Homo sapiens: one gene and its partner. The protein of the gene in region 1 purifies or fractionates together with the protein of each later gene. This does not show direct contact. Each region holds a gene or a part of one and is shown in the gene's direction. Other genes may lie near its edges.

Evidence for each region. Proteins that work in one complex are often made in the same cells at the same time.
Region 2: the proteins of AARS1 (region 1) and GARS1 fractionate together in Homo sapiens (co-fractionation; 2 studies listed by BioGRID). This does not show direct contact.

What each region holds. Positions count from the first base shown.
Region 1 is NC_000016.10:70,257,710-70,262,797, reverse strand, and holds part of AARS1 (alanine--tRNA ligase, cytoplasmic), read left to right. Parts: intron 1-273; coding exon 274-452; intron 453-1,640; coding exon 1,641-1,754; intron 1,755-3,611; coding exon 3,612-3,818; intron 3,819-4,580; coding exon 4,581-4,765; intron 4,766-5,088. UniProt on the Homo sapiens protein: Catalyzes the attachment of alanine to tRNA(Ala) in a two-step reaction: alanine is first activated by ATP to form Ala-AMP and then transferred to the acceptor end of tRNA(Ala). Also edits incorrectly charged tRNA(Ala) via its editing domain.
Region 2 is NC_000007.14:30,628,910-30,633,997, forward strand, and holds part of GARS1 (glycine--tRNA ligase isoform 1 precursor), read left to right. Parts: intron 1-2,538; coding exon 2,539-2,632; intron 2,633-3,337; coding exon 3,338-3,528; intron 3,529-4,825; coding exon 4,826-4,951; 3' UTR 4,952-5,088. UniProt on the Homo sapiens protein: Catalyzes the ATP-dependent ligation of glycine to the 3'-end of its cognate tRNA, via the formation of an aminoacyl-adenylate intermediate (Gly-AMP).

The sequences.
Region 1 (5,088 bases):
ACAGGGTTTCAGCGTGTTAGCCAGGATGGTCTCGATCTCTTGACCCCGTGATCCGCCTGCCTCGACCTCCCAAAGTGCTGGGATTATAGGGGGAGCCACCGCGCCCGGCCGCGAAGCCCTTTCATATTGTCTAATGAGTTTGCTTCCAAAATACAATTGGACAATTAGGAGCTAAGAAGAGTTTGCGAAAGAGAATCCAGCAAAAGTCAGCCAAGAAGGAGTGAAAAGGTCATTGACCCCACTGTCCCCTTTCTATGCATTTCCCTTGAGCAGTATTTGAGAACACAGTGGCTACGGTGATGGCTCTGCGCAGGGAGAAGATGTTCGTGGAAGAGGTGTCCACAGGCCAGGAGTGTGGAGTGGTGCTGGACAAGACCTGTTTCTATGCTGAGCAAGGAGGCCAGATCTATGACGAAGGCTACCTGGTGAAGGTGGATGACAGCAGTGAAGATGTGAGCCAACAGTTCTTCCTTGTTAGCCGAGGAGGGCCAGGCGTGGAGCCGGGGAGCTGCTTTTGCCCCACAGTGCTCCAGGCCTTGGGAGCAGACCTGACACACCTTTGGGTTGGGTTCCATGGTATTTCTGAAGCCGAGGGAGCTGTTGCTTGTACCTGTTGCTTTCCTGGCCATCGGGTACCCTCGTAGGAGTATTTTTGCAGCCAGGGTACAAGTTTCCTACAAGCTTTGCACATTAAAAAGGAGAGGCAGCTCTCTGAAGGGGAGATGTCCTTGTAGAAAACTCAGCCTCGAGCTCTGCCGCTGCTGAATGAGTTACTTTGTCTCCCTAGGCTTCAGGTTCCTTATGGAGGCTTTTAGATACTCAAAGATGCGGCTGGGTGTGGTGGCTCATGACTATAATCCTAGCACTTTGGGAGGCCAAGGCGGGTGGATCGCCTGAGGTCAGGAGTTCAAGACCAGCCTGGCCAACATGGTGAAACCCTGTCTCTACTGACATACAAAAATTAGCCAGGTATGGTGGTGGATGCCTGTAATCCCACCTGCTCGGGAAGCTGAGAGGGGAGAATCGCTTGAACCCAGGAGAGGGTGGTTGCAGTGAGCCGAGATTGCGCCACTGCACTCCAGCTTGGGTGGCTGAGCGAGACTCTGTCTCAAAAAAAAAAAAAAAATTCTAAGATGCTCCTTAATATTGGTTATGTCTGTGTGTGTGCACAAATATATTTAATTTTTTTTTTTTTTTTTTGAGATGGAGTCTCGCTCTGTAGCCAAGGCTGGAGTGCAGTGGCATGATCTTGGCTCACTGTAACCTCTGCCTTCCGGGTTCAAGCGATTCTCCTGCCTCTGCCTCCTGAGTAGGTGGAATTATAGGCACTTGCCTTCACGCCTGGCTAATTTTTGTATTTTTTTAGTAGAGATGGGATTTCACCATGTTGGCCAAGCTGGTCTCGAACTCCTGGCCTCAGGTGATCTACTCACCTGAGCCTCCCAAAGTGCTGGGATTACAGTCATGAGCCACTGCACCTGGCCTATTTAATCATATTTAATGATATTAAGGGAGTATGTGTGTGTGTGCAATTTACATATGTAAAGAGAAGTTATATACACGAGTTTATATTGAAAATATAAGAAAATTTGTATGTTTTTAAGGATTTATTTATTGGTCTCTTCCTTGACCCCTCTTAGAAAACAGAGTTTACAGTGAAGAATGCTCAGGTCCGAGGAGGGTATGTGCTACACATTGGAACCATCTACGGTGACCTGAAAGTGGGGGATCAGGTCTGGCTGTTTATTGATGAGGTGAGTTGGGTTACTGTGGCCCCCATTGGATCTGGTTAGTAATTATCTTCTCCTCTGGCTTTAAATTGTCCTGTCACTGTTGGGCCGGGTGTGGTGGCTCACACTTGTAATCCCAGCACTTTGGGAGGCCGAGGCGGGTGGATCATGAGGTCAGGAGATCGAGACCATCCTGGCTAACACGGTGAAACCCCGTCTCTACTAAAAATATAAAAAATGAGCTGGGCGTGGTGGCAGGCGCCTATAGTCCCAGCTACTCGGGAGGCTGAGGCAGGAGAATGGCGTGAACCCGGGAGGGGGAGCTTGCAGTGAGCCAAGATCCCGCCACTGCACACCAGCCTGGGCAACAGAGCGAGACTCCGCCTCAAAAAAAAAATTGTCCTGTCACTGTTATCACTCCCTAGTGTAAGTAGACCGCAGGGGTTAATTTAGGTGCATTTGGTGGATTGTGAGGGATGCAACTAAGAGTTAATCTATATGTTCCCAAGTCAGTGATTTCACCAGTGATTTCAGTTAAGATCCCGTGGACTTGTTTTCACGGATTGCTTTTCTAACGTCACCTACTTCTTTGGGAGCCAAGGATGCTGAAGAATGAAGAGGTAGGCTCTGGCATGTGACAGAGCTCCAGAGTAAGAGTAGCTTAAAACCAGGATAGCAGTGTATGTTCTAAAAAGCTCAAGCTGATACGGAGGCTCTGCCCCACAGTCAGAGGGCCTGGTTTCTCCTCACCTGTCACTCCACCTTCTTTCCTGGGGCATTGCCTTTGATTTCCTGGTTCAGAGGATAGCTATCAGATCCATTGTCTAGGCCAGGGGTTGGCAAACTTTGTGTAAATAACTGGATACTAAATATTTTTGGCTTTGCTGACCACATGTTCCTGGTGATGAGTACTCAGCTCTATAGTTGGAGTGTTCAAGCAGCCATTGACCATATGTAAATGAACAGGTGTGGCTGTGTTCCAATAAACCTGTTTATGGCTGGGCACAGTGGCTCATGCCTGTAATCCCGGCACTTTGGGAGGCCGAGGCGAGCAGATCACCTGAGGTCGGGAGTTCGAGACCAGCCTGACCAACATGGAGAAACCCTGTCTCTACTAAAAATACAAAATTAGCCGGGTGTGGTGGTGCATGCCTGTAATCCCAGCTACTCAGGAGGCTGAGGCAGGAGAATCGCTTGAACTCGGGAGATGGAGGCTGCAGTGAGCCGAGATCATGCCATAGCACTCCAGACTGGGCAACAAGAGCGAAACTCCTTATAAAAAAAAAAAACTGTTTATAAAAATTTATAAACACATACATTTGGGGAGGCTGAGGTGGGAGGATTGCTTGAGGCCAAGAGTTTGAGACCCAGCCTGGGCAACAACATGAGACCCCATCTCTACAAAAAAATAAAAAATATTAGTTGGGGGTAGTGGTGTGTGCCTGTAGTCCCAGCTACTTGGGAGGCTGAGGCAAGAGGATCACTTGAGCCCAGGAGTTTGAGGTGGCACTGAGCTACAATCGCGCCGCTGTACTCTATCCTGGGTGACAGAGCAAGACCCTGTCTCTAAAAATGAAAAGACAGATGACAGGCTAGATTTAGCCATCGGCCGTCATTTGGCAATTCCTGTTCTAGGCGGTGGAAAAGAAATGGGAGGACCTGCCCCATCCCTTTAATGGTAGACATCACTTCTGTTCAAAACCTTTTGACCCGAACTTAGTCACATGGACACACTTAGCCATAGGGAAGCTGGGAAATGTAACCTTTATTCTGCACAGCCATATTTCCAACTAAAAATTGTAGCACTCGGGGGAGCAGATAACGAGGAGATAACTAGCAGTCTATTACAGACCTCTCCATGAGCCCCTCTGCCCTTTCCAGCCCCGACGAAGACCCATCATGAGCAACCACACAGCTACGCACATTCTGAACTTCGCCCTGCGCTCAGTGCTTGGGGAAGCTGACCAGAAAGGCTCATTGGTTGCTCCTGACCGCCTCAGATTTGACTTTACTGCCAAGGGAGCCATGTCCACCCAACAGATCAAGAAGGCTGAAGAGATTGCTAATGAGATGATTGAGGCAGCCAAGGTAGGATGGGCGACGGCTGAATGCCCCCCCTCCCCACACCGTCACTGTCTGTCCACAGTCTTAGCAGTGCGGTGCTCTCACTCTGTTGTATCAGATTCGTCCTGCACGTAGATTTGCTTAAAGCAGGCTGGGCACGGTAGCTCACGCCTGTAATCCCAGCACTTTGGGAGGCCGAGGCGGGCGGATCACGAGGTCAGGAGATTGAGACCATCCTGGCTAACCCTGTCTCTACTAAAAATAGAAAAAATTAGCCGGGCGTGGTGGCGGGCACCTGTAGTCCCAGCTACTCAGGAGGCTGAGGCAGGAGAATGGTGTGAACCCGGGAGGTGGAGCTTGCAGTGAGCCGAGATTGCGCCATTGCACTCTAGCCTGGGAAACAGAGCGAGACTCCGTCTCAAAAAAAAAAAAAGTTTGTTTAAAGCAGTGATTCTCCATCTGTGCTTTTGCCGGGGGCAGTGGTGGTGGTTGGTGGAGGGGAGAGGGAGAGGCATTTGTCCCACCCCACCTTGGGAGAACCAGAGCTGTTCTAGTTAAGTCTGTTCACATATGAGATTTGGTCCACAGTTTAACAAAATAGTTGGAAATTCCCATACTGATGCCCTTGACTTTGCACGTGGCGTGTGATTGAGGAAGCTCATGGCACGTGCTAGGCCAAGCCAGGTTGGAACCCGAGTCCTGCCTGCAGGACCATGCTTTCCTGCCTCGTCGTACCGCACCTCCAGGGATCTCTTCCAGCTCTTTTCTGTCTTCTTGGTCTGGCAGGCCGTCTATACCCAGGATTGCCCCCTGGCAGCAGCGAAAGCCATCCAGGGCCTACGGGCTGTGTTTGATGAGACCTATCCTGACCCTGTGCGAGTCGTCTCCATTGGGGTCCCGGTGTCCGAGTTGCTGGATGACCCCTCTGGGCCTGCTGGCTCCCTGACTTCTGTTGAGTTCTGTGGGGGAACGTGAGTACTGCAGAGGGGCAGAGTAGACAGGTCATCTACCTTCATCCTCTGAGGATGTAGGTCTTAGGCTGGACCAACTCTTGTCTGTCTAAGGTTGAAGTGAAGTCCTCAGAAATGCCGTTGCTAAATAGCGTTCCCAAGAATCTCAGCATCCTAGCATGCTCATTAGATCCCTGTATCTGAAGGTAACATTTCCTGACGAAACATTCCCAGGAGGAAAAGGGGGAAAACATTGTATTCACATTACCACACAGTTGCTTGCTGTTGTTTGCTGGGCTGAAACTAGCAAGAAGGCTTGTGTGAATTTGGGATTCAGCAAGGCC
Region 2 (5,088 bases), on another chromosome or scaffold:
GACTGAACCTATTACTTTGGGGAACAATCTATATTATGTCAATGGAAGGAATGGTACTTTCTGGATATGCTGTGTTTCAGAAAATTGGGAAGGATGAGATAACTCCTAGAATTTAGCCAGACCACTAAGCTGTATCTGTACTCTGGTAAAGTATCAAAGGGAACCCTCTCAAACTGCATGAAATTGTCTGGGGTACTTTTGGGGTAAAGATGTGAATTCCTAGGTTCTACTCTGGAGATGCTGATTCACTAGGTCTGAGACCCAGGGATCTGGGGTTTTTTTAAAAAAAATAAGAATCCTGAGTGATTTCACTGTGAAAGCTTGACAGATCATAAATGGGATAATAGTTGTCTGGGGTATAGCCTTTCCTAGCATTCAAGTATTGCTGAAGATAGAAGTTTATAAGAAGTCTTCATCAGCTCCCACAAATTTTCTTTTCGGTCTGATGCTTCTGAATCACTGCTCCTTGCCTTCTTCCTCTTTATCTCCTTGCCTTACTTCACCATTTTTACCTCACCTCTGCCTGCAGAAGTTACACTCCTGGGCAGATTACTAGGAAAGCCAACCAGAAGAATGGCTAGAAAGGAGAGGTTGTATATGTCAGGTTAATTGAAAGAAACAGCGTCATCCACTTGGCCATTCTAAAGCTTGAGTGTACGTAATGTTAGACATCAACCGTGTGGTTCTTTCTAGGACATTTAACCTCAAAGAATGAACTAGTGAGTTCTCGGCACCAGTACTTTAGTCTGACACACTATTGTAATACATAGCTAATAAAGTTAGTATGGTACTCTCTGCCCTAAAGTTGCATCTTCATTTCCCAACCTTGAAGGAGCAGCCCTATTCATTCAACAGATTGTAAGAACCTGGGCTAGGCCCCAGGTGCGCAAACATAAGGCTTGGTTCTTTTTGAGAAATGATGACAAACATAACTGCATGTGTTCTTTTTAGATGTCAAGTCTGCTTCAAGCTTTGTCTGCTTATTTTTCTAATAAAAAGGTTTTAGAAAATCTTTTAGCTGTTCCTTTGAATCTAACAATATTAATATAACTAGAGCTTTAATAGAAATTTCGTAAGGGCTAAACAAGAATAAATTAGTCACAGTGTTTTATGAATTGCATGAATTCCCATCATGAAGAGAAATTTGATTAGGCTGTGGGAAGCCAAAAATGTTTCTAAATTATTAGCACCTAGTTCCTCAATCCATTTGCCTATAAATTTGGTATAAAAACATTGCTAGTGAAATTTTAAAAATTATTTTTCTATAAAGGCAGGTCCCTGTTACTCTCTTATATTAAATAGAAATATCACAAGATGGAGGAAGGGAATAGAATTCTGAACCTTCTGTGATGTGAGCAGCCATATTGGTGGAATACAGGCCTTACTTAGAGTGGGATATTCATTGCTTGGCAATAAAGGTTAATTGAACTTTGGGTGAGAGGCTAAACTGGAACCTGTGTCATTCATTATTTTTATGGGACAAATTTATTCTGTGTTTTTGCCTTCAAGTGAACCTTTTGTACAAGTATTAAGAACTGCCTTCAGTTCCCATTTCCAACCTAAAGTGGTTGATTGGTTTGCCTTCCACAGAATATTTTTATTTTCGCCTTTTTTTTTTTTTTTTTTTGGTCTCGCTTTGTTGCTCAGCTGGAGTGCAGTGGCACAATCTCAGCTGACTACAGCCTCAAACTTCTGGGCTCAAGCAATCCTCCTGCTTCAGCCTCCCAAGTAGCTGGGACCACAGGTGCGCCTCACAATGCCCAGCTAATTTTTTAGTTTTTGTAGAGATGGGGTCTTGCCATGTTGCCCTGGCTGGTCTTGAATTCCTGGGGTCAAGCAATTCTTCTGCCTCAGCCTCCCAAAGTGCTGGGATTACAGGCATGAGCCACTGTGTCCAGCCTTATTTTTGCTTTCTTTGATTTCTGAGTTACTCAGAAACTATTTCAGGGCAGTTTAAGAAGGCTGTACTTTTTAGTGTAGGTATATGGAACATCTTTTTTTGTTTTGTACTATTTCTTTTGGACATATGTTTGTGAGCTAATTAAACTTTTCTGTTTCACTTGGTCACTGAGGTTCATAGGTTTTTCTCTTAAAAGACAGAATGGGCTTTGGTTTGGGTCACTGCCACTTGTTTGAATATTTAGGTAGTCTCCACAGAAAGTCTTTTATGTGGAACCAAAAAATTACCGTCTTTTATATACAGTAGCTTTCAGAATGCTTTCACATCATTTGACTTTTTTAGTAACGGGCTTGTGAAGCAAGCAGAGCAGGTGGTAGAGACCTGCTTTTTAGGTGGAGAAACTAAGGTTCAGAAAGAGTTCATGACTTGGCCTAAATTCGGAGCTGAAACCAGGTGTTTCTGATGCTGGTTCTGCTTCTCTTTTGCCATACTGCTTTTCATGTCATGTTTTCTGGCATTTTGGTAATGACGTTATGCTTGAACACTTGCTGAATATTAACCTCTTTTGGTTTGGGATATTAGCATTTAGATATTTACAAATTAACATATTTGGATTTTTTTCTTTTTAAATCATCCAGTTCTTCAGTTTCCCTGCTGTAGTTGCTCCATTCAAATGTTCCGTCCTCCCACTGAGCCAAAACCAGGAGTTCATGCCATTTGTCAAGGAATTATGTAAGCAAATTCAATTGGGTAAACTCCATGGGAACACCATCAAGGAGACTGAATTTTAGGAAATGTATCATTTATTTCAATAAAAATATAGACTGAATAAAGAATATAAATGATTTTATAAAGAGTACATGATTTTAGCCTGTACTCTTATTTCTAAGCGAGAGGATATGCTTGCTCAGATGTTTTATTCTGGCATTTGAGTGAGGCAAGGTAGGACCCAAGAGTCAGATTTAAAAATTATTTACTTCTCATACTGACCTTGGTGCCAAGTTCATCGAGGGAACCTGAGTGGAGTGTAGCAACCATAATGGATCTACAGCCACAGAATCCACAGCCCTGAAAGGAATCCTGGTGGTCATCTGGCACATCCACTTATTTCAGAGCTGGGAAATGGGGAGAGTCCATTGACCTGCTTAGAGCCATAAAAATAGAGGTGGTGGAGTCAGGACTCACCTTCTGGCCTTGGCTCTTGGTCCCATATTTGTTCCCCCTATAGCTGTATCAGATGGAGGTATGAGTGAAGATTTGGATTCCCGCAAGGGATTTATTAAACTTTAGGGATATTTCTTTCTCTTGCAACTCAACTTGTTGCTTTCTTGTCTTGGTCCCATTTATAAGTCTCCTGAGCTTGTAAGACAGTAGTTAGATAACACTGGGCTTAACTCCATTGTTTTATTTTTAATTTACTTTGTTTATTTTGGATAGCGGAAGCCCTGACCAGGCATGGAGTATCTCACAAAGTAGACGATTCCTCTGGGTCAATCGGAAGGCGCTATGCCAGGACTGATGAGATTGGCGTGGCTTTTGGTGTCACCATTGACTTTGACACAGTGAACAAGACCCCCCACACTGCAACTCTGAGGGACCGTGACTCAATGCGGCAGATAAGAGCAGAGGTATCTGGCCTTCTCTTTGGCATTTTTAGCCTTAGAAATGTGTACTGCTTCTTACTGATTTGTGTTGGATTTTGATGTGTTTATGCTCCCTTTCCTTTTTTTTTCTTTTTAATTTTAATGAACGGCTTGTATCAGACAGAGCCCAGATTCTCAAGTCCCCCGGTTTAATTATGAAAATATCCATTAGCACTTCTCTAATATTTTATAAACATTTGTGTTGCTCCAGGCTTATTCTCCAGCAGTTTGCTTTTATACTTGTTTGTTTATTGGGCAAGAGAAATATGATCCTAAGAATTTGTTGCCATAGTTTTATTGGTAGGCTTTGGAGGGTTAGACATTTTAATGTTTTATTTTTACAGACGCGTATACATGTGTATGTATAAGCTTTTCCGTGTTCATATATTCAAAACAGTGAATCATGTTTCAGTAGTTTTGGTCAATAGGAAGGCAGTAATGGAGATGGTAGAAGCACAGAAGGAGAAGGATGAGTGGTAAGGGAAAGGAAAGAGTAGCTGCTTTAATTGACATCTGCCTGCCTAATTTATCACCTTTGAGCACATACATCAAGTGCCTGTTCTGTGCTTAGCTTGATACAGAAGTAATAGGGAAAACAGAAGCAAAAGACTGCTTTTTTTTCTGAAGGAGTTTATAGTCTAATCCAGAAGTCGTGAATTTCTAGCTTGACTTTTTAGAGACCATCTGGCTACTCTGGAGCTGTGTCCCCATCTGGGTGTGGTTCTCAAAAGTGTGGTCCCTAGACCAGCAGCATCAGTATCCCCTGGAAATGTATGAGATAAGCAAAACCTCCACCCCAGACCTACTGCATCATAAACTGGGGGTGGAGAGGCAGAGGGGGCAGGCAGAACTTTCTTAGTTTTAGCAAGACCTCCAGATGATTCTGACGTGCACTCAAGTTTGAGAACCATTGCTGTGTGGCAGCCAGTGTTTGGTTTTGGCTGAGGAACAGTAGCCTTGGTCAGAGCTCTCCAGTTTGCCAGTCTTATGTAATTCCCTCACACGAGTTACTTGACTGAGTCCTGTTTGTTCTAATAGTTAAATTTAATACACATGAAGTAACTTCAAGGGACATGGAGATTTAGAAAAGTTAGGAAAGGCTTTGTGGCAGAATTGAGTTGTCTGGGGGAACTGGTGGGCGTTTTGGGCTAGAAGAGCATGAACCCATGCCTGGCATGACATTGTTTGGCTCTGTGTAAGGTTTCCTGAGTTCAGGATGAATCTTCTTCTTAAAAATCTGAACAAGTTGGTTGATACTTGGCTTCTCTTTCCTTGTCTCTAGATCTCTGAGCTGCCCAGCATAGTCCAAGACCTAGCCAATGGCAACATCACATGGGCTGATGTGGAGGCCAGGTATCCTCTGTTTGAAGGGCAAGAGACTGGTAAAAAAGAGACAATCGAGGAATGAGGACAATTTTGACAACTTTTGACCACTTGCGCTAATAAAAAAAAAAAAAAACTACTCTTATGTCCACTTTACAAAAGAAAACAGCATTGTGATTACTCCCAGGGACCGTATTTTATCTTCAGTGGCTGCCTGATTTT